Regions from separate parts of the Homo sapiens genome. Here region 1 is linked to region 2. The links come from fine-mapping of genetic effects on gene expression. A gene starts in region 2. The other region holds a variant in brackets. All regions are shown on one strand. Distances are from middle to middle. Region 1 overlaps NRDC (nardilysin convertase). Region 2 holds the start of NRDC (nardilysin convertase).

Evidence for each region. PIP is the estimated chance that this variant, and not a neighbour inherited with it, causes the effect.
Region 1: its variant is fine-mapped to the expression of NRDC in whole blood (INTERVAL, PIP above 0.99).

Annotation. Positions count from the first base shown.
Region 1 is chr1:51,824,374-51,832,373 of GRCh38, reverse strand. NRDC (nardilysin convertase) reads left to right here. Exons shown (of 31, transcript NM_001101662.2): 5 at 4,505-4,578; 6 at 6,992-7,087. Among named protein-coding and RNA genes, the nearest start is that of MIR761, 8.0 kb to the left of the region's middle. The variant C/T (reference allele first, on the strand shown) is at 4,476.
Region 2 is chr1:51,874,631-51,891,566 of GRCh38, reverse strand. NRDC (nardilysin convertase) reads left to right here and starts at 12,840. Exons shown (of 31, transcript NM_001101662.2): 1 at 12,840-13,292. The coding sequence starts at 12,952. RefSeq lists silencers at 8,044-8,244, 10,598-10,795, 12,753-12,802 and enhancers at 11,549-12,102, 12,493-12,672, 12,556-12,850, 14,519-15,050.

The DNA.
Region 1 (8,000 bases), 55 kb after region 2:
AGAGATCTAATATTTTTTTTAAAAATTGGCCTGGTGTGGTGGCTCACACCTGTAATCCCAACACTTTGGGGGGCCGAGGTGGGCGGATAACTTGAGGCCAGGAGTTCGAGACCAGCCTGGCCAACACGGTGAAACCCTGTCTCTACTAAAAACACAAAAATTAGCTGGGCTTGGTAGCATGTGCGTGTAATTTCAGCTACTTGGGAGGCTGAGACAGGAGAATTGCTTGAACCTAGGAGGCGGAGGTTGCAGTGAGCTGAGATCATGCCATAGCACTCCAGCCTGAGTGACAGAGTGGGACTCTGTCTCAAAAACAAAATAAAATAAAAAAGATAAAATAAAAAGAAATTATCTCTTTTCTTAAGAGATTAATTTGATCTGGAAAAATCCTTTGGACATATTCCTATAAATTGGAAGCATATGCCACTATTTATTTATTTTTTTTTTGGAGACAGTCTCACTCTGTTGCCCAGGCTGGAGTGCAGTGATGTGATCTCGGCTGACTGCAGCCTCATGCCTATAATTCCAGCACTTTGGGAGGCCAAGGTGTGTGGATCACTTGAGCCCAGGAATTCGAGACCAGCCTGGCCAACATGGTGAAACCCCATCTCTACTAAAAATACAAAAATTAGCTGGGTGTGGTGGCGCAGGCCTGTAATCCCAGCTGCTTGGGAGGCTGAGGCACGAGAATTGCTTGAACCTGGGAGACGGAGGTTGCAGTGAGCTGAGATCGCACCACTGTACTCCAGCCTGGGTGATGGACCGAGACCCTGTCTCAAAAAAAAAAAAAAGAAAGATAAATCAATGAAGGCAATGCAAATGATGCCTGAGATGATCTTTCCTATAAATTTAGACAGGATCAGCAATACCTTCAGAGGAGACTTTAACCATACAACTTTGAAGAAAACTGCATCTTTACTCTTGTTACAGAGTTCTCAGCTCTTAAGTTTTACAGAATCCAAACAGGTCTTTGTATGTGTGAAGAAATCTTAAGCAGAAGACAAGTTGAATTTTTACAACTTTATATTTAGCTTTGTCCATATACAAAGAAGGAAAAATAACTGATTTTATTGGGAAAAAGGATAGGCAAATGGTATGTATGATATGAATACATTCTGGCCATCTCAGAGATGATGAAATTTGGTATAAAATGTAGTTAAGAAATTTGTTTTGTTTCCTTTTAAAGAGTTGTTCTAAATATGTTTTGTACAAGGACTGCTTCAGCATCTAAGAATATCACCTTACACATTTATTTTTATTTAAAAAGAAAGCCACCCAATAAGAAAGCCACTGCATTAATAGGATAAATTAATGAGAATATCAAATCATAAATTTATGCCATAAGTAGAGCATTATAGGGTGCAAATACTATAATAAATGCTATAATATTATACTTCTACAATGTATAAGGAAAAGCCTTTATACGTGTGTAATATGCTCTTATATAACATGGATTAAGTACCTGTTTTTAATAGGTTAGCAAAATCTGATTCCCTCACACAGGCCACATTGTTTATAAGTATCTTTTAAATAAACAGCTGAGGAAATGACTAAATTTTTACTCCAGTTAAGTAAGTGAGCATGGAAGCCGTCTTTACCATGGTGGCGTCTTCTATTTTCAGTAAATTTGAACTTTATTTTATCAGTATTTCATGGTAAGAGTGACAAATATCAAAGCTTAGGATGTCCACTTCTAACAGGAGACCCTCCCCATTATAAGCGGGAATACAAAATCTTCACTTTCAGGTTGTGAAAAAGGATGAGGCGTCCTGAGTAGTTATAGCCTAGATTCCAAGTGCCTGAGTATTCTGGGGAACCCCAAGTCTTGATTGTAGCTTCATGGGCAGAACTGGTAGTGTTCCCAGGAGCCTGGGAGAAGCAAACATAAGGCATCTCAAAAGGAAGATGCCTTCCTTCTAGGCCCTAAATTGTTACAAATATTTTTTCAAGTAAAATAACCAACATTCAGTCAAAAATAAGCAGGTACTCAGGAAAATAATACAACATGATTGAGAACAGATAACACAAACAGATTCTGAGACATCTCAAGTACTGGCATAGTTACACACAATTTCTAAAATAATTATACTTTCTATTTTTTAAGAAATAAAGGCCAGACGCAGTGGCTCATGCCTGTAATCTCAGCACTTTGGGAGGCCGAGGCGGGTGGATCACGAGGTCAGGAGTTTGAAACCAGCCTGGCTAATATGGTGAAACCCCATATCTACTAAAAATACAAAAATTAGCCGGGTCCGGTGGCGGGTGCCTGTAGCCCCAGCTACTTGGGAGGCTGAGGCAGGAGAATCGCTTGAACGTGGGAGGCAGAGCTTGCAGTGAGCCGAGATAGTGCCACTGCACTCTAGCCTGGGTGACAGAGCGAGACTCTGTCACAAAAAAAAAAAAAAAAAGAAATAAAAGACAAATTTGAATATACTTGCAAGGAATAAGAAACTGTCAAATATGACCTAGGAAATTTGTAAAATGAAAAGATACATCTTGAACTGAACTATGATAAAAAAAATTGAAAATGTCATGGACAAGTTTAAGAGTAAATAGAGTTGAAGATAGAATTAGTAAGCCAGAAGATAAGACAGAAGGAATTAACCCAAGTATAGCATAAAGAACATATATAACCCAAATATAGCATATAGCACAAAATTAAAAATACAAAGAATATGAAGCATAGAGGATAGAATGAAAACATCCCATGTATTTTACTTGTAGTTGTAGAAGGAGGAGAGAGAAAATTGAAGTAGAGACAACAGTTGAAGGGTTGATCACTGGAAAATTTTCAGAACCTGTTGTAAGACATCAAATCAGAGGTTAAAGTCTAATAACTTCCAAAAGGATACATTAGAAGAAATATGGAAAATTTTTGCCAGATAAAGAGAAAATTTTCTTCAAAGGAAGATGAGTTACACTTACAGATGACTACTCAACTTCGTGCTCTGAAGGAAAATAACTACCAACTAATAACTAGAATCATAAATTGTACACTAAATAAAAATATCTTTTAAGAATGTTAGTAGGCTGGGCATGGTGACTCATGCCTATAATCCCAGCACTTTGGAAGGCCAAGGCAGGTGGATCACTTGAGCCCAGCAGCTGGAGACCAGTCTGGGTAACATGGTGAGGGAAAAAAATTAGCAGGGCATGATGGTACATGCCTGTAGCCTCAGCTACTTGGGATGCTGAGGTGGGAGGATCACCTGAGCCTGGGGAGTTCAAGGCTCCAGTGAGCCGTGATGTGCCACTACACACTCCAGTCTGGGTGACAGAATTAAATAAAATTAGTTTCATTATTTAAGTCAACAGAAATTATCCAACCCATCATTAATCATACCAAGTACTGAAAAGAAAAAAAATGCCCCAATATATCTAGCAGGTAGTTAAGTTAAAAGTTACCTTATTGCAAGCAAAAGTTAAAAGTTTTTTAAAGAAGCCTGAGCAATATAGGGAGACCCTGTCTCTATAAAAAATTTAAAGATTTAAAAAAAAATGGTAGTGCACACCTCTAGTCTCAGCTACTTCGGAGGTTGAGGCAGGAGGATTGCTTGAACCCGGCAGTTTGAGGCCGCAGTGAGCAGTGATTGTGCCACTGCATTCTAGCCTGAGTGATAGAGTGAGACACTATATCCAAAAAAAAAAAAAAAAAGTTTACTAAACATTTTAGGAAATTAATTTTTTAAATCATTCTATTTTGCTGGAAAAACACCAATACACCAATCTTTGAATAATTTTTAACAATTTAATTGCATTGCTATTATGTATTTATATAAGTGGTAATTTGTATATGTAATTTGATACATCACAGTTTATATAATTAAAAATTAATTTAAAAAGCAGATGAAATTATAAGATTAACTTAAATACCAAGTCTTTAAAATTCTAATTTAACTTTTAACTGAAACGTTTTTAGTCATCTGTAAACTTGCATTGAACTAAAAAAGTAAGCTTTATATACTCTATAAAAACATGGATATACATAACATTACATAAATAGACTATCTGTGATATTACAATTTTACAAAGGAATGAATAGGAGAACATTTCCGAAAAGGCTCCTAAGGGTTGAAAATGGAAATAAAAAGGGTTGATAAACATTGGGTTAGAAATAGGTATATAGGTAATAAAACTATAAAGAAAAGGAGAGAAATTACTGCTATACATTCAGGATATTTCTTGAGGTAAGGGTAGGAGCTGGGTGCTTCTAGAGTGTTGACTATGGTCTGTTTCTTCACCTGGGTGGGCCACTCAGGTGTAGTTTATATGTTCATGTTTTGTTAACTTTTCTGTATGATTGTTATTAAATATATTTCACAATGAAAAAGTTAAAGTAACATGTAGATATTAGTTTAAAATATAGAAATGCAGATTATTTAGATTTTATATACTTAGGATTGTGAATTAAATCTCCAACTTAGTAAGTTTCTTAATTAAAATAATAGATGTTGATTGATGAAAGTGAACAAAAA[C/T]GGAAATGCCAGTTTTGTTTTTTGTTCAGATGGGCGCAGTTCTTCATCCACCCACTAATGATCAGAGATGCAATTGACCGTGAAGTTGAAGCTGTTGATAGTGGTAAGAGGAGTACTTTATGTGTAACTACAGTTTTTTCCTTCATGAAACCAGTTACTTATTACATTTATCCTTCTTTATCTCTAGACCATTTTATCTTTATATTTTAAAGGACTAAATTGAAATATGTGTTATGTTTGTTCCTGAAGTCATTAAACATCTAATTCAGTGTAGATTTGAAGTAAATGAAAAGGATGGTGGATTTTAGTTTTTTCATCCTTTGTTTTTCGAAGGTTTTACCATAGGGGCTAATCTTTTGAGATTCAAAGATTGAAGACTATAAAGGAAAAGAATGTGCTTATATAGGGTGAGGCTTCATTATAGATCTGTGCTATAAATATTCCTTAATTACATAGTACCAATAAATATCACCATTGTATATTATCCCTGCTTGATTTATTTAAGTATTAGAAGCATTTAATACTAGACTTGAGGGGACTTCCAGTTCATATAGGTTAGGCTTGGCTTATAGCCACTGCAAGTCTCTGTATTTGTTCCACTTTTTGTAGTATTTCCCTCCTTGGTTTGATGCAGTGTCTAGTTCTAATAATGATGTAAAGCATTTACTAGGCTGAGTAAACTACAGATGGCTAGAGTGATCTATCTGGAAGTCAACAGACCCCTGTTTAACTTACAGAAGTGTCTAGCTGTGGCATTCAGTTTATTTGTAAAAAAGGATGGAATGGTTAAGCTCCTCCTAGCTGTAGTAGCTCCTTGGAAATCAAGGATTTATTTTCTTTATTTTTTTACTTGCCTACCACAGTGTCTGTTTTACCTTAAACCCAGTTAAATACCTGTTGAATGGATGAAAAAACAAAACAACTAAGGATAACTAAAAGCACTTTTCATATTTTGAGACTCAAGAACTGTTATCTGTGTCTTAAATGCTTTCTAGTATGTTTTTCTTTATACAGTTTCTAGAGTGGGTTGACACCAGTGTTTAAACAAGCAGACCTTTAATTAGATTTTACAATTTTAAGCCAGAATATATTTTATTATGCTTTGAAAAATTATGCTGAAAGAAATATATATGTATATACACACACAGTATGGAGTTTTGGTTTATGCTGAACTAAAGTAAAAATTCTGTTGTGCTTTTGTTCATGATCTGCCTGCTTCGGCCTCCCAGAGTGCTGGGATTACAGGTGTGAGCCACTGCGCCCGGCTGATAAATTATTTTTAATAATTGACTTTTTATTTTAATGATGGTTTATACTCACATAAACATATATAATTGCCTGCATAGTATGTCTTAGTGATTGAGATGAAAGGCATGTCCAATGCCTTTTTAAATCTTAATTATGTGTCAAAGTGCAGTCTCTATTTTTATTTACTTACTTCTTCATTTTTAATGTTTGTTTCCTTTCCAAATATGGTCTCTAAGTGTTCAGATATTTATACTCTATTTTTATCAGTTGCAAGGGGTCTTAAATCACTTTTCGTAGATATGTTTACATGTCTGCTATATTACCTGTTATTGCAGAAACATGGTGGCTTAAAATAAAACATTTATTTTCTTACAGTTTTGGAGGAATGGAATCAGGTACGTTAGATAACTTCCTCAAGGTTGTTGAGCTTAGTGTCAGAACTGCAGTTCTAGCGGTTTTTAGTCCATTTGGGCTGCCATAATGGAATCCCACAGACCGGGTGGCTTATAAACCACAGAATTGTTTCTTACAGTTTTGGAGGCTGAGAAGTCCAAGATCAAAGAACTGGCAGATTTGGTGTCTGGTGACAGCCTGCTCTCTGGTTCATAGAAAACTGCCTTCACTCTTTGTCCTCATACAGCAGAAGGGGCAAGGGAGCACTCTGAGGTCTCTTTTACAAGGGACTAATCCATTCATGAGGGCTCTGCCCTCATTACCTAATCATTTCTCATTGGCCCCTACCTCCAAATACCATCACATTGGGGATTAAGTTTCAACATAGAAATTTTGGGTGGGGGGACACAAACATTCAGTCTTTAGCGGTAGCTAAAGGTATTTCTGACTTCAAAGTGGATTGTTCTTAGCCATCATACTTTATTACCAACATAGTTGGTTTTGGAAGAAATTTAAACAATATATATGACCAAATTCCCAGATAAAAGGATTAATATTTTATTAGCATTTTCATCAGTAAAATCTTGTACATAGCATCCTAGAGCTGAAACTTTCAGATTATTAACTACCTTGTGTTTCATTTGAAAAATAAGAGTAAGACTCTGGTAAGCTGAATTGATTTACCCAAAATTACAGGTCATATTAAGTCATAGAGCCAGGCCTGGATCATTGAGTTTCCCACTTCAGTCTTATAACACGTGATTCATGAAGTTAATTTTGTTAATTCCTTGCTTTCTGTTCTGTAAGTTTGAATTTCCATATAATAAAGGAGATACTGAATTTTGTTTTATTATGTGTTTATTTAAAATTGACAGAATATCAACTTGCAAGGCCTTCTGATGCAAACAGAAAGGAAATGTTGTTTGGAAGCCTTGCTAGACCTGGACATCCTATGGGAAAATTTTTTTGGGGTAAGATACTAAATACATCATCTTATTTCATATTTTCTAGTTAAGATTTAGAATAAGAAAAGTTGATAAAGAATTGAAAATTATAAAGCTAGAGTCCCTAGGTACCTTTTACCTTTTAGGATAGCTAGTTAGCCTTTCAAACGCGAAGTTGTTAAATATGCCTCTATTTGGTTCTCTAACAGTGAATATAGCAAGAGTAACACCTAACATTTTGTGAATGCTTTTTAAGTGCCAGATACTGTGCTAACACTACATGAATTATTTCATTTGATCATTATCACAATGTTCAGAGATAGGTACCATTATCATCTCCATTTAAAGATAAACAGGTTTAGGCCAGGCGTGGTGGTTCACACCTGTAATCCCAATGCTTTGGGAGGCTGAGGTGGGAGAATCACTTGAGACCAGTTCAAAACCAGCCTTGGCAACATAGTGAGACCCCATCTCTATTTTAAATTTCAGTCAAGTTATCTCATTTGTTTAAATCACACAGATAGTAAGTGGTGGATGTGAGATTTGAACATCTGTTTATCTGATTATAAAGTCTGTGCTCTACCTCAGCCTGACATTTCCATTTGTCAACAGAGTTAGCAATAGTTTCTGTAAGAGTTTTTGAACTGCGACTTAATTTTGTTCATCTAGTAAACTGTTTAACTGGTGTCTGTTTTTCATAATGGCATTTTCTTAGTGGGAGGATTTAGTTACAGCCTCATATTAATCCTGTTGACTATAGAGTAAAATTTAGGATGAGATGATCTGAATTATTCTTTAAAGGGTGTTTTGTTTCCCTGTATATTTCTGTACAGTTATATACATTTTATAGGGCATTCTTGCTTCATGTGTTTTATTTTTAAGAATTAGATAGCCGGGCGCGGTGGCTCACGCCTGTAATCCCAGCACTTTGGGAGGCCGA
Region 2 (16,936 bases):
CAGTCCTTGGGATGTGGAAATGTGATTGCAAAACATGTGTTAGGTACTTTGGGAAGGAAAAGAGATCATATATGGCATCTACTCCTAAATTAATTACAATATAATTAGGGAGGCAATATTCATGAGAAGATTTAAACAGGAGTTCAAAATTTATATAAGACAATAGTACAAGAGAAGTCACAGGTTATATATGATTTACTGCCAAGGAAATGATACCAACAACATGTATCCCAAGTTCAGGTATGGAATGGATATGGGCTGTAATAGTCAAAGTTCAGGTATGGAATGAGTGTGGGCTGTAATAGTCAAAGAAGGCTTCTATGAGGAGGTAGGTCAACCAGACTGGAGCACAGTAGGATCTTGGAGAGTGTGGGTAGAGGAAGAATAATCACTACTGTTACCCCCACAAACACCATTTTTCTGCCCCCAATTTCAGGAATTTACATTGTTCATTTAAGACACTGATAGTTCCAGTGTTTCAAATGGTACCCTTTTTGTCTCCCTTCTGTAACATTTTTCCTTTTAATTTTGAAATAATCTCCAACTTACAGGAAAGTAACAAGAACAGTACAAAGAAGTATTTTTTTCCCCTCTGAACCTTTCGAGAGTAGGTTACCCCTATGATGTTCCATCATTCACAAATTCTCAAAATCAGGAAATCAACATTGATGTATTACTATCATCTAATCCACAGAACCCATTCAAGTTTAAGCAGTTATCCCAATAATGTCATTGAAAGTGATGCATTTAGTTATGTCTCATTAATCTTTAATCAGAACAATTCTTTAGTCTTTCTTCGACTTTCATGACCTTGCTACTTGTAAAGATTATAGGTGAGTTATTTTATAGAATATCCCTCAATTTGATTTGTCTGGTGTTTCTTCTTGATTAGATTCAAGTTACGCATTTTGGGCAGGAATAGCACAGAAGGCATGCTGGGTTTTTCCTCGTGACATACTGTCAGGCTATAGCAATTTCAATTTGTCTCCTTACTAATAATATTAGTTTACAGATTAAGTGGTGTTTGCCAGGTTTTTCCACTGTTAAGTTATTCTTTGTCCCTTCTTAATTAATAAGTATTTTGTGAAGAGGTACTTTGAGACTATGTAAATATTCCATTCCTCATCAGATGTGTACCAAGAAGTTTAGCATACATAGATGTTTCTTGGTTGATTTATTACTGTTATGGTTGCCAAATGGGGATTTTCTAATTCCATCATTGCTTGTACATTTATTGTTGGTATTATACTGTAACAAAAAGTTTTCTTCTTTCATTCATTCATTCAGCAGTTTAGACACATTAATTCCCATTAATACTATTGTTATTTATTTTGAGGCTCAAATTGTCCACATTCTGGCCCTGGGAGTGAGAGTCCCTCCAAGCTGGACTCTGTGTCTTTTTGATATGTTCTCATTATTCTATGAATACTTCTTTACTTTGTGGCTTAGCAAGATGTTCCAGGTTCATCTTGTACCTTCTCTGCCCTAGCCTTGGAATCAGTCATTTCTCCAGGAAGCTTTGGTTCTTTTTATTGGAAAATGGCCTTTTAGTGCAAAATGCATTTGGAAACCAAAATGGAGGTGTTAGGTATGCTCATTGCTGTTGGGGTGTCACTGCTCCTAGGTCCTCTTAGTGAACATAGCTAGAAAATATATGTATGTATATACATACTCACATACACATACACACACACATTTTATTATTATTTTTGAGACAGAGTCTTGCATTGTCACCCAGGCTGGAGTGCAGTGGTGCAATCTCGGCTCACTGCAACCTCCACCTCCCGGGTTCAAGCAATTCTCCTGCCTCAGCCTCCCAAGTAGCTGAGACTATAGGCGGGTGCCACCACGCCAGGCTAGTTTTTGTATTTTTAGTAGAGATGGAGTTTTGCCATGTTGGCCAGGCTGGTCTCAAACTCCTGACCTCAGGTTATCCACCCACCTTGGTCTCCCAAAGTGCTGGGATTACAGGCATGAGTCACTGCGCCCGGCCACACACACACATCTATGTTTTATTCTATGTCCACCTATTGCAAATCATGAGTTTACACAAATACCTACAATTCCAATCCAACACCACAGAGTTCATTCTAATTTTCTGCTTTTCCATATTTGTAACTCCTTACATCTACAGTGAGAAGCCTGGATCCCATCTCCCATTATCCTCAATATATTTATTTATTTGGTAAATCACCCGTTTGTAACCAATCTCCCATTGTTACTGCGGCCCTCACCTCTCCCCTCCTCACTCTGCTTGGATTCGGACACTTTGCACTATCAGCCTATGTGGTCACCCTCTTTAACCGTGCATGCTCTAACAAATATCATCATGCTGTTACCACACATGCTGGACACAGGTGCCAGGCTTGCTTAGCTCTACCTAAGTAAATGATTTTTAGACACAATTATTTAGAAGGTAGGCAGGCTGTTGGAAAGCCAGATGCTTTCTTAATGAGAGTTATCAACTGTCATTTTCGTGTACATGTTATAACATTTGTTACTGTGCATATTACATTTAAAGCTTAGACTGGGGGGTTGGCTGGGCACAGTAGCTCACACCCTATAATCCCAGCACTTTGGGAGACCAAGGTGGGCAGATTGCTTGATCCCAGGAGTGCAAGACCAGCCTGGGCAACATGTGAAAACCTGTCTCTATAAAATAAAATTAAATAAAGTAAAGCTTAGACTTGGGGTTAACTACAGCAGGGAATATCAATGATCAAATTAACACATCATAAGTCTATTTATTCTAGGTATGTGACAGGCAACATGTAAGAGATGAAAAAATATAATCTTTGGAATCAGACACTCATGGTTTGCAATTTCAGTAGTCCAACTTTCCTATTGTTGATTTTGTGCAAGTTATCTAACTTCTCTCGACCTCAGTTTCTTCATCTATAAACTGGTGAATAACATATTTAGGTTGCTGTGAGGATTAAGTGAGTTAATGAAAGTAACAGTCTTAGAGGCCAGGTGTGGTGGCTCATGCCTGTAATCCCAGCACTTCGGGAGGCTGAGGCGGGCAGATCACCTGAGGTCAGGAGTTCGAGACCAGCCTGACCAACGTGGTGAAACCCCGTCTCTACTAAAAATGCAAAAATTAGCTGGGCATGGTGGCAGGTGCCTGTAATCCCAGCTACTCAGGAGGCTGAGGTAGGAGAACTGCTTGAACCCAGGAGACGTAGGTTGCAGTGAGCTGAGATTGCACCACTGCACTCCAGCCTGGGCAACCGAGCAAGACTTCTTCCCCCCAACCCCACATCCCCCCAAAAAAGAAAGAAACAGTCTTGGCACAAAGTATTACAGTTACTCAAGAAACAGAAACTACCAGCTGGGCTTGGCTTCAAGACATGTGAAATTTAAACAAGCAAAAAAAAAAAAAAAAAGAAAGACAAATATCGCATTTACCAGTTCCCATGAAAGCAGAACATTCTATACTACTACCTATCCTTTCAGTCCCAACACTGACTTTCTATCATGTTTCAAAACAAAACAAAACAAAACAAAAAAGGAGGCTGGGGACTATTAGAAGGGAACTCTTTTAAATTCCTGCTGCTTCTTTCTGCTTCTTTCTTCCTAAAACGATGTAAAATTTTTGCTGCATTTGCACCTATCTGTGTATCTTTCCTTCTGGGCCAAATGATAATGGTGTTCCTCTACAATTTAAGGCTAATCCCACTCTTCTGTCTCTCCAGGGATCTTGAAACTTCAATTTCCTGTATCATTCATTCATCAATTTGACAAGTATTTGTTGAATACCTACCACATGCCAGGCCCCATTTTTGACTCTAGGGATGTAGTGGGGAACAAGACAAATGAGGTACCAGCTTTCTCATGGGCCTATAACATACAGAGGGTATGTATAGATAGTAAGCTTTTTTTTTTTTTTTTTGAGATGGAGTCTCGCTCTGTCACCCTGGCTAGAGTGCAGTGGCACGATCTCGGCTCACGGCAACCTCCGCCTCCCAGGTTCAAGGAATTCTCCTGCCTCAACCTCCCGAGTAGCTGGGACTACAAACGCCTGCCACCATGCCCGGCTAATTTTTTATTTTTAGTAGAGACAGGGTTTCACCATCTTGGCCAGGCTGGTTTCGCACTCCTGACCTTGTGATCCACCCACCTCCGCCTCCCAAAGTGCTGGGATCACAGGCGTGAGTCACCGCGCCCGGCCTAAACAGTAAGCTAATAGACAAATAATATAATTTCAGATGATGAGTATTATTTTAATTAATTATTTTGAGACAGGGTATTGCTCTGTCATCCAGACTGGAGCACAGTGGCATGATCATGGCTCACTGCAGCCTCACCCTCCTGGGCTGAAGCAACCCTCCCACCTCAGCCTCCCAAGTATCTGGCATGTACCACCACACCTGGCTAATTTGTGTGTGTGTGTGTGTGTGTGTGTGTGTGTGTGTGTATTTTTTGTAGAGACGGGGTTTCACCATGTTGCCCAGGTTGTTCTCAAACTCCTGGCTTGAGCAACCCACCCGCCTCGGCCTCCCGAAGTGCTGGGATTATAGGTGTGAGCCACCGTGCCTGACCATGAGTACTATTTTAGATAGAATAAGAAAAGGCCTCTCTTAAGAGTGACATGTTTTCTGACATATGACTGGTGTGAAGAACTCAGCTATGCAAAATTTAGAGTAAGAACACTCCAGGCAGAGAGGCAGAGGTAATGGCCCTAAAGCAGGAACTACTCTAGTGTGTTGAAGGACATTAAAAAGCCAGTGTGACTGGAGCAAAAAGCTGAATGGTAGATGAGATGGTAGACTTAGAGGAAGGACAGAAATAATTAATAAGCAAGCCATATAAGCGATAGCAAGAGGCTGGATTTTATTCAAAGAGCAAAGGAATGCCATGATGGGTTTCTTAAAAGCGAATAATATAATTAGATTTTTAAATATTATTTTGTGTCTTTACATTCTTCTTTCCAGGCAGAGTTTCAAAAAATATGTATCTTTAGTCCAGAGATGAGGAGCAACTTAGCTTGATTTGTGATAAAATAATATTTCATTTGTCACATTTTTTAGAGTCACTCCTAATTTATCACGAAGTTTTGAACATCAAATTCTTCTAGAACTATGTTTATAGTATAGGAGAAAACTTTTTTTTTTTTTTTTGAGACAGAGTCTCACTGTGTTGCCCAGGCTGGAATGCAGTGGTGCAATCTCAGCTCACTGCAACTTTTGCTTCCTGCGTTAAAGTGATTTTTCTGCCGCAGCCTCCCAAGTAGCTGGCATTACAGGCATGAGCCACCATGCCCGGCTAATTTTGCTATTTTTAGTAGAGATGGGGTTTCACCATGTTGGCCAGGCTGGTCTCGAACTCCTGACCTCAGGTGATCCATCTGCCTTGGCTTCCCAAAGTGCTGGGATTACAGGCATGAGCCACCGTGCCTGGCTGAGAAAACTATTTCTATGGTCACACAAATTGCTTGGTATATTGTGCACACATTCAGTTTCGGGGGAGAAGACTCCATAAGAACATGCCTACTTCTTGACCTAGATACAAAGCTGCCAAATGTGGATAGCAATCAGTGGGTGGGACAATTAATAACCAGAGCTCCAAAGGTATAATTTCTTAGCGCATGGGCCCTGGACAAAATGTTGAAGTGGGTAATATTTCTCTTGTTACCTACCTCTTCTTTCTGTGTCTTTCCCCCTAGATTTAGCAATCTCTTCACCTACCCCAGATTCATAGTGATCTGAAGTTGCCTAGAGTGTGCTTCGAACTAGAGGAAATAAAACATATCCATTCACAAAATGGGTTAGTTTTTCAATCCTTTCGAGGGTGTTATTGGCATTTAACAAGAGTTATAAAAAGGGACATAAATCACTAATGAAGGAATTTTAGACATTAAAGCAAGGGGGAGATAATTTGGGGTTTGAGATGTTAATGGGCTCATACTATTCCAATCTACTCAATGTAGAGTCAACATTCCACATTTCTGCCTTATCCTGACTTTCAATTATAAAGATGGATAATTAAGAATAATTTATCTTTTAATTTTTAAAAGTAAGGCTGAGGCTGGGCACGGTGACTCACGCCTGTAACCCTAGAACTTTGGGAGGCTGAGGCGGGTGGATAACCTGAGGTCAGCAGTTCAAGACCAGCCTGGCCAACATGGCAAAACCCCGTCTCTACTAAAAATACAAAAAATTAGCCAGGTGTGGTGGTGCATGTCTGTAATCCCAGCTACTTGGGAGGCTGAGGCAGGAGAATTGCTTGAACCTGGGAGGCAGAGGTTGCAGTAAGCCGAGATCACGCCATTGCACTCCAGCCTGGGCAACAGAGTGAGACTCCATCTACAAAAAAAAAAAAAAAAATTAAGGCTCAGATCTGTCCCTTTTGCATTGACTAAATTAACTTTCAGAGGCAGGGATCGAACACAGAAATGAGCTGTTTTTAATTTTCATGATTTCTAAACTTTCACCAGAATAATAGGGAGACAAGGCTCACCAAATCTGATGGGAGGGAAATCCTTGAGGTAAAAATGGAAAGGAGTTTAAGGTGGCTGAAGACGAAGTGGAAATGTAAAAAAGCCTTTAAATACTGTACTCTCAGAAAGTCTGTCAGGGTCTGAAACCGAAGAAATATTAAGAAATTAAAAAATAAACTTAAAGAAAAAGTCTGGGTTGAGCCCAGTGGTGCACACCTGTAATCCCAGCACTTTGAGAAGCCAAGGTGGGAGGATTGCTTGAGGCCAGGAATTCAAGACCACCCTGGGCAACATAGTGAGACCCCCATCTCTTAAAAATAAATTAGCTAGGCATGGTGGTGCATGCCTGTAGTCCCAATTACTTGGGAGGCTGAGGTGGGAAGATTGCTTGAGTCTAGGAGGTTGAGATTGCAGTGAGCTATGAATACACCACTGCACTCTAGGCTGGGTGACACAGAAAGACCCTGTCTCAAAAAAGAAAAGAGAAGGTCTCGGAAAATGAGGTTAAAAATTACAGTCTTGTACTCTTTAACTTTATTGGGGATATCAAGTTCCTTTTAACTTCCTGATGCCTCAGTTTCCTTTTTTTTGGAGACAGAGTCTCACTCTGTTGCCCAGGCTGGAGTGAAGTAGCACAGTCTCAGTTCATTGCAACCTCGGCCCTCAGTTTCCTATATAATAGTTATACTTTCGCTGGGCACAGTGGCTCATGCCTGTAATCCCAGGATTTTGGGAGGCCGAGGCGGGCAAATCACTTGAGCCCTGGAGTTGAAGACCAGCCCGCACAACATGGACCCTGCCTCTACAAAAAGTACAAAAAATTAGCTGGGCATGGTGGTGCATGCCTGTGATTGTGGTTCCAGCTACTCGGGAGGCTGAGGCAGGAGAATCACTTGAGCCTGGGAGGCAGAGATTGCAGTCAGCCGAGATCATGCCACTGAATTCCAGCTTGGGTGAGAGAGCTAGACCCTGTTTCCAAAAAGGAAAACAACAACACCAACAACAACAACAAAGTAATAGCTTAATTTACCTGTTTCCTCTGAGGAATACTCTTTATAATACAAATGAGAGATGGTAACTTTCCAAATTATTTTAAATAGGAAAACAATACTTCTGGTTTGGAAGTCCTGGCTATGCCTATTGGTCATTTTTGAGTTTCACCTGAATAGGTATTTATCTTTATATCTGAAGACACCAGACTAAAATAATTCAGAGATCCCTTGCCAATTCTTATATTTTATATATCTAATCTGACACTTCTTTTTCTTTGAGACAGAGTTCAATTCTCCTGCCTCAGCCTCCTAAGTAGCTGGGATTACAGGCATGCGCCACCCAAGTAGCTGGGATTACAGGGGTGTACCACCACAGCTGGCTAATTTTTGTATTTTTAGTAGAGACAGGGTTTCGCCCTGTTGACCAGGCTGGTCTTGAACTCCTGGCCTCAACTGATCCTCCTGCCTTGGCCTCCCAAAGTGCTGGGATTACAGGCATAAGCCGCTGCACCGGGCCTCTGATCTGACACTTCTAACATGTGCTGTGGGTCAGAATTGTATTGGGCTCAGCATCAGAGGTATTTTTCCTGTGATCACACAGGTTTTCTTCTTAACACCCTGGTAGTTCCTTCTCAGTCTCTTTTGTGAGTTCTTCCTCTTCTGTAAGTTCCTCAAAGCTTTCTCCTTGGGCCCTTTTTTCACTTCACAATCTCAGTGTAGGTGATCTCATTCAATAAGCTTTGGTTACCACCTAGAAACCAATAAACCTCAAATTTTTATCTCCAATTTAGGTCTCTTTTCTGAGCTTCAGACCTGATCTTCATCTGTGTCTCTCACAAATAACTCAAACTTAACATGTCCAAAACTGAGCTAGTATACTCTTCTCCTACCAAAACTCCTTTTTCAGAATTTCCTGTTTACTGAGTTACTGGCACCATCATCGATCCATCCAGAAAACCAGACAGCAGGGAGTTATACCTAACACTTCTCTCTTTATTCTCCCACATCAAATCAATCACTACCTAATACTGGGCAATTCTACTTCCTGAATACATATTATTTATCTACATCTTTCCATCGCCACTATCACTCCTCAAATCCAAGGTATCATCTTCTATTGCCTATATGACTTCAGCAGCCTTCTAACTGCTCTCTTTTCTTCCAGTCTTGCCTTTGCCCCCACCATCCAATGTTTTTCATACATGAGCCAGAGCGGTCTACTTGGAAAACACTTGTGATCATACTCTCTCTTTTCTTTTGTTCAACCATTATTTACTGAGTACCACAGTGTGCCAGAAACTATTCTAGAAGCTGGGGATCCAATGATATATAAAATAGATAAGGCAATGACCTCTTACTCATAGGAAGGTTCTTTATGATCTCGACCACGGACTGCTTTCCCCTTTGCTTCCAGATTAGTACACTACAATTTAGCCATACTGACTTGCTTTCTCAGGGCTTTTGAACAAGTATGTATATTCCTACACCCAATTCCTATACATTTTTCAAATGTTAATTTACATTTCCCTTATTTACCTTTTTTTTTTTTTGAGTTGGAGTCTCGCTGTTACCCAGGCTGGAGTGCAGTGGCACGATCTTGGCTCACTACAACCTCCACCACCCAGGTTTAAGTGATTCTCCTGCCTCAGTCTCCCGAGTAGCTGGGATTACAGATGCATGCCACCATGCTCAGCTAATTTTTTTTTTTTTTTTTTTTTTGGATTTTTAGCAGAGACGGGTTTTGACATGTTGGCCAGGCTGGTCTCGAACTCCTGACCTCATGATCTGCCCGCCTCTGCCTCCCCAAGTGCTGGGATTACAGGGGTTAGCCACCATTCCTGGCCCATTTCCCTTCTTTAGAGAAACTCTGACCAGTCTAGGTCCCTTTGTTTATATCTTTCCAGAACTACTCACAATTATAAATTTAAAATTTGTGTGTTTGTTTAATGTTTGTCTCTCCCACTAGTTCTCTTTTATGTTCCAAGAGAACAGGAAAATTTCTTGTTCATCACTGTATTCCCAGTTTCTGGCACATACCACGAGCTCAATTTGTTGGTTGAATGAAGAATGGACTGCCTCACATGTGCTATGGAGTTAGAACTGTATTGGGCTCAGCATCAGAGGTATTTTTCCTGTGCATGTTACCATATTTCTACAGTCTGGTAACCTGTAAGATTCAGAGACTTTTATTTTTATTTATTTTGTGGGGACAGAGTCTTACTCTGTCGCCCAGCCTGGAGTGCAGTGGCACAATTTTGGCTCACTGCAACCTCCACCTCCTGGGTTCAAGCAATTCTCTGGCTCAGCCTCCTGAGTAGCTGGGATTACAGGTGTCTGCCACCACACAGAGACTTTTTTTTTTGAGACAGAGTCTCGCTCTGTCGCCCAGGCTGGAGTGCCGTGGTGCAATCTTGGCTCACTGCAACCTCCGCCAGAGACCTCTTTTTAAAGCAGCTCACACTTCAGGATGCAATCTTTGTCTCTTTTTTTTTTTTTTTTTTGGAGACAGGGTCTCACTCTATCACCTAGGCTGGAGTGCAGTGGCATGATCATGGCTTGCTGCAGCCTTGACCTCCTGGGCTCAGGTGATCCTCCCACCTCAGCCTTTCAAGTAGCTGGGACTACAAGCATGCACCACTATACCCAGCTAATTCTTTGTATTTTTTGTGGAGACAGGTTTTCTCTATATTCAGTTTGGTCTCAAACTCCTGGGTTCAAGTGATCCACCTTCCTCAGTCTCCCAAAGTGCTGGGACTACAGACACATGCCATTAGATCCAGCCCACCTTTGTATCTAGTTAGAAAAATTTAATTAAAAACCACTGCTGTGAGCTAGGTGCAGTAGTTATGCCTATAGTAATCCCAGTGATTTGGGAGGCTGAGGTGGGAGGATGGCTTAAGGCCAGGAGTTTGAGACCAGCCTGGATAGACATAGTGAGAACTCATCTCTAAACAAACAAACAAATAAAACCAACAACAACCCACTGCTCTGAAGAAGAGAAGTCTAGTGGAGTTGCTTAAAGTGGTAAGTTCTTGAAAAGATGTATGGAAACAAACTGGGATATTTTAAACAGTATTTTTCAATTTACCTCATCTACTGCTCCAGTTCAGGTTCCATCATTTTCTACCTGAATCATTGTACCCTTCCTCCCTAACTCCTTATCTTCCTATCCTATACAATTTGTCTTCATTGCATTTATTGTTTTTTGTATATGTGAGACAAAGTAGCAAACATAAGAAGCCATGTCTGCTCATTCTGTTTACCAGCAGAATTTCACAAACTCTCTTGCCAGCAGAATTTCACAGCCTCAGTGACTGCGCACAGCCCTCCAGAATACCCTGAAAATATGCAGGATAGAGCACAAGTTCCCATGTCTCTTGCCTGAATCACTGCATTTTTAGAAAAGATAAATCCAATGATGCTCGACCTTGCCTCTTCCTGTACATTTCTGACAGGATTAATGACTATGCCTCCATAATCTATAAACATGTGTACTCTTCCACCTAAACCTTCATGAGATTTTGCTCTAGTGTAACTCCTGAGTACATTTTTTCTTTTTTATTAGAGACAAGGTCTTGCTCTGTCACCAGGCTAGAGTGCAGAGGCACAATCATAGTTCACTGTAACCTCAAACTCAGGAGTCCCAGCAATCCTTTTAACTCTGCCTCTCCTGTAGCTAGGACTACAGGGATGTTCTACCACGCCTTGCTTTTTTATGTGTGTGTGGAGACAGAGTCTTGATATGTTACACAGGCTGGTTGTAAATGCCTGGCCTCAAGCAATCCTTCTGCCTCAGCCTCCTTAATCACTGGGATTACAGGCCCAGCCTTTCTGAGCACATTTGATTTAACTTCCAAGCACATGCAGAGCGGCCACCACCTGTATAGAAGCTGCGGGCTGAAACACTGCTTTGGAGCAGTCTAAAAAAAAAACTCTCTGACTCTCCCAGGTGGCAGTCCTCAATAAGACTTCTGAAGAAAGCTAACTTGAATTATTTAAAAGCCTGATTTACTTTAGTTTACATATTTTACAGTTCCTTCCCATTAGGATGCAAGCTCCCCCAAGGCAAGGCTTTAAATTTTTGTTGTCGTTGTTTAGACAGGGTCTCACTGTGTCAACCAGGCTGGAGTGCAGTGTTGCAATCACGGCTCACTGCAGCCTCGACCTCCTGGACTCAAGCGTTCCTCCTGCCTCAGCCTCCTGAGTAGCTGGGACCACATGCACGCATCACCAAGCCTGGCTAATTTTAAAAAAGAATTTTGTACAGACGGGGGTCTCACCATGTTGTCCAGGCTGGTACCAAATTCCCAGGCTCAAAGCAATCCTCCCGCTTCGGCCTCCCAAAGTACTAGGATTATAGGTGTGAGCTATCACTATCACGCCCAGCCTAAGGCAAGTTTTGTTTTGTTCATGGTTGTATTCCTTGCATTTGGAACTCAGAAGAGGCCTCGAAAACCTTGAAGATACAGTAACTATCAACACATCTCCCTGCTTCACGTCTTTCCCCGCTCATTCGTATGTATGAGCTATGATCTCTTACCCCATGGTGTCAGTATAGTGCATCTTACTAATTTCAGCTGCTTTTTAGCTTTCATTTATGTTTGTATTTCCGTCACATTTTACATTGCTAACCAAAGACCACTGCTAGCGGGAAAAACTGGGAAAGGAGACTTGAAGGCAGCAGACGCTGCAGCTGCTCGATAAAAATTGGCCGAATTTAACAGGAGGCTGGAGGAGCTAAAAAACGTTTTCACACAGAAGAGTTAGCACATCCAGACTGGTCTTTTTAGCACTTTCTTAGGGCTTGAGGATGAAACCCCACCACTGTCGGGCCGACTGTAGGGTAGAGAAGAGCCAATTAGTATTTGCGGCGCTCGGGAGCAGCGTCCATCCGGCGGGTGTAGGAAAATACTTCCGGCGTTCTGGTTTTTTATGTGCTGAGTCACAGCCGAAGGCTCGCCCCGGGTCTGAGGAGTAGGGTACCCAAACTATGACACGAATGGGAAAATTTAAAACTTTGGAATTAATTCTCTGCACTCGTTTCTCAGTTTTCTCATTAGGGGAATATTTTTCTTTGACACGCGGAGCACTACTCAGTGGTTTCCACAAAACACACTCGTACGTCATAAACGCGCCGGGGGCCCTTCTCCCGTCGTCCTCCGCGCCACTCTCTCCGCTTCTTCTCCCTCGCCCCGCCCACTTTGGGTTTCGAAATGTTCGCTGGCTGTTCCGAGAATCAGTCCGGGTCACGTTGGTGCCTCTCCTTTCCTGTTCTGATTGGTTGCTTACGTGAGCGTGACTACTTTCTTGCCTCATGATTGGCTGAAATCAGTAGCGTCATCGGCGGCCGGGAGGGCGGAGGGACGAGGGAAGTCGGCGAGAGGGAGACTGGGTTGGGGGAGGGGTTCAGGCCTGTTCCCCGCGGCTGCGGCAGCACCAGGGCCGGCCGCCACCGCCTCTAGAACGCGGAGGAGGTGGGTCCTGGGAAGCGGGATGTCCATCGCTCCAGCTTGGTGGTGAATGCTGAGGAGAGTCACTGTTGCTGCAGTCTGTGCCACCCGGAGGAAGTTGTGTGAGGCCGGGCGGGAGCTCGCGGCGCTCTGGGGAATCGAAACGCGGGGTCGGTGCGAAGACTCTGCTGCTGCCAGACCCTTTCCTATTCTGGCCATGCCTGGAAGGAACAAGGCGAAGTCTACCTGCAGCTGCCCTGACCTGCAGCCCAATGGACAGGATCTGGGCGAGAACAGCCGGGTTGCCCGTCTAGGAGCGGATGAATCTGAGGAAGAGGGACGGAGGGGGTCTCTCAGTAATGCTGGGGACCCTGAGATCGTCAAGTCTCCCAGCGACCCCAAGCAATACCGGTGAGGGAGGAGGCTTGCAATGGGGAGGCGAACAGTGTGCCGGCTTCTCTGTCGGTGCCGCCGTCACTTCTTGTCTCCATGTCTCCCAATGGAGCAACAGGGCACACTTTCCACCCCAAATGCTTCCTTGGGTGGAGGTGGCAAGCGTGATTAGAGGCTTCCCTGTGGTGTCAGCTGGGCAAGTGGGAGATCTTGGGTTGTAAGACGTCAGAATGGGAGAAGCTTTTCGAGTCATTTGAATACAGTCGCTAAAGCAAGAATGAAGGTTTCTTTGAGGAACGCAGCCTGAATGGTGAGGGAGTCTTGGTATTATGTTACCAGGAAAGGTTGACGGAGTTGGATACTTTAATTTGGAGGACAGGATATTTAAGGGGCATATTATCACTATCCAAAATATTTGAGGGACACTTAAGTGATAGGTGAAACTAGTGGACGAAAGTTACCAGAGGATGGTGTGGCTTCAGTAAAGTAACTTTGCATCATATTTGGCCTAAGTTGAAGTGACTTGTTTCCATGGGTAGTTCTCCATTACCAAAACGGTTGGGCGACCTCGTCCAGGAATATATTAGAGAGGGCTTAGGTCTCAGTTGGGTGAGTTGTAAGGTTTCTTCTAACCTTGAAATTCTCTACTTTTGGTTTGTACAGGAGTTCTCTAAACATTTCTAATAATTGGTGATTCAGTCCCCACCTGAGTATTTTCCTTCAGAGGTAGCTTATTTCATGGAGTATCATGACTATGATGTATCTTGCGTGTGTGTGTGTGCGTGTGTGTTTTAATAAGAGTCTGGGTCTTGCGATGTTGCCCAGGCTAATTTCAAACTCCTGGGCTTAGGGAATCCTCCTGTCTTGGCCTCCCAAAGTACTGGGATTACAGGCGTGAGCCACTGTGCCAGGCCTGGACTTTGATGTATTTTAAATAGAGTTCATATTGTCCAATAACTTCGTTGAACAGGTTGAGGAAATTGAGACCCAAAGAGTTTGCTTCTTGCTCTGAATCACACAGCTAAATAATAACAGAGCTGGTATGATGACCCCTACTATCTGACACCAAATTCAGTGTATCATTTGCTGATTTCCTTTTTTTTTTTGAAACGGAGTCTTGCTGTGTCACCAGGCTGGAGTGCAGTGGCGCGATCTTGGCTCACTGCAACCTCCGCCTCCCGGGTTCAAGCGATTCTCCTGCCTCAGCCTCCCCAGTAGCTGGGACTACAGGTGCTCGCCACCACGCCCGGCTAATTTTTTGTATTTTTAGTGGAGACGGGGTTTCACCATATTGGCCAGGATGGTTTCGATCTCTTGACCTTGTGATCCGCCCGCCTCTTCTCCCAAAGTGCTGGGGTTACAGGCGTGAGCCACCCCGCCCAGCCCGTTTGCCGATTTTTTACAAATTTCTTGCTTATGTGAATTGAAAGCTGAAGGATTCTAGTTCTAAATTTGTTATAAGCCCCTACAGCGTTAGCGCAAGAAACAACCTTATAGATAATCTTTTCCACTTCCCACCACACCTCTTTGACAGATGACACTTAGCTCCAAGTTCAGGACCAACCTAATTTCTCCTTTCACTTCAAGTCTAGATATATTTTCTCCAGGCTGCCAGAGTCAAGAGATCTTTATAAATGAGCTAAATTTTCTTTCTCATCAAAGATGTGATTGTACAGGTTGAGTATCCCTAATCCAAAAATCCAGAATGCTCGGAAATCCAAAACTTTATGAGCGCCAACATGACACCACAAGTGAAAAATTCCACACTTGGCACCTTTGCTTTTTGATGGTTGGTTCATGTACACAAACTTTGTTTCATGCACAAAATTATTAAAAATATTGTATAAAATTATCTTCAGGTTATGTGTATAAGGTATATATGAACCATAAATGAATTTTGTATTTATACTGCATCCCATCCCCAAGATACCTCATTACGTATACGCAAATATTCCAAAATCCAAAAAAATCCAAAATTTGAAATACTTTTGGTCCCGAGTGTTTCGGATAAAGGATACTCAACCTGTATTGGCAATGTATAAATGAGCAAGTTGAAAACTTGATAAAAGGTGCTTAGTTTTTGCCTTCCAGATCAAATGTTCAATAATGGTTTCAGGGTTTTTTCCAGCCTATATAAAGTTATATAATAACTAATATTTATGGAATCTACACTGTGTTTCAGCTACTGTTGTAACTGTTTTAGATGTGTTATTTCATTTACTGACCTCATTTTTGGTAAATTTGTTTGATAAATACCTGTTAAGTCCTACTGTGTGCTAGGCACCAAGCTAGATTAAATATTTTCTGAAACTTGGTCAAATATAATGTAATAAATAACATGTTAGTCTGGGTGAATATACAAAAATGATTGAGCCAGTACCTGCCTTTAGGGAGCTTACAATAGTAGAGAGGGACACAGACACATAAAAAAAAAAATTAGAGACTGTTGTGGTGGCTCATGCCTGTAATCCCAGCACTTGGGGGGCCGTGTTGGGAGGATCACTTGAGCGCAGGATTTCGAGACCAGCCTGGGCAACATAGTGAGCCCCTGTCTCTACACACAAAAAATTAGCCGGGTGTGGTGGTGTGTGCCTGTAGTCCCAGCTACTTGGGAAGCTGAGGTAGGAAGATTCCTTAGCCTGAGAGGTTGAGGCTGCAGTGAGCCATGATCGTGCCACTGCACTCCAGCCTGGGTGGCAGTGAGACACTGTCTCAAAAAACAAATAAATAAAACTAGGGCACTAAAGTTTTATAGAAGCCATAACGGAGGTATGTCCTAGATATATTGAGGAATGAAATACATTGATAAATTCCACCGGGGGAGAAAGGAAAGACTTCAAAGAGTAGATAATGCTTAAGAGTTGTTCTTTGAAAATTGTTGCGTTTTTGTCTTTATATGGCTTTTGCCAAGTCATTGTCCTTCTTAGTGTCTCAGCTTATTTTAAAAACGAAGGGGGTTGGTTAGAACAGCAGTGTTTTTCAATAACCCTCCCCTTTCAGAAGAGCAGTTCTTCCATATTACCTGTTTTATATACTGGAGTTTCAATTAGACTTTTGAAGAAAAGATGTTATTAGTTTAAAATAAAGGTGGAAAGCCTCAGGACTAGGTGATCTTTAAAGACTTATCCAAATTCAATTCTATGAATTTTTGTAACCAGAAACACACTTAGACGCATCTGCAGCCCACAGAGCTGAATTATCCTTCCAGATTCTGCTGAGATATTCCCTCTGTGAAGTCTTTCTAGGCAGAACTAATTCCTCCTTCCATTGTATTTCAGTAGGATTTTGTGCACGATCCATTACAGTACATAGCATCATATTATATATCTTTTGAATAAGTACCAGAGGAGGACCCATTTAGAGGAATATTGTGGTGAAATAATACCTTGAAAGATTTACCAGTCTGCATTTATTAATAGCCTGCGGAATTTTACTTCAGCATATGTGTAATTTGTATTCCGCTTTTTTGAAATGTTGGGCATATTTCCAGGACACCTATTATGCTTTTTTAGGGATCTGTATTAAATGCTTACCAAGTATTGATTCCCTTCCCTTCTGGAAGGGTTAAGGGACTTCAGGTTGGGAATTGATATTCAAATTTTTATTGGTGTTGAGTGGAAATTCTGGTTGGGCAGGATTAGTAGTGGTGTATTCTATTTATT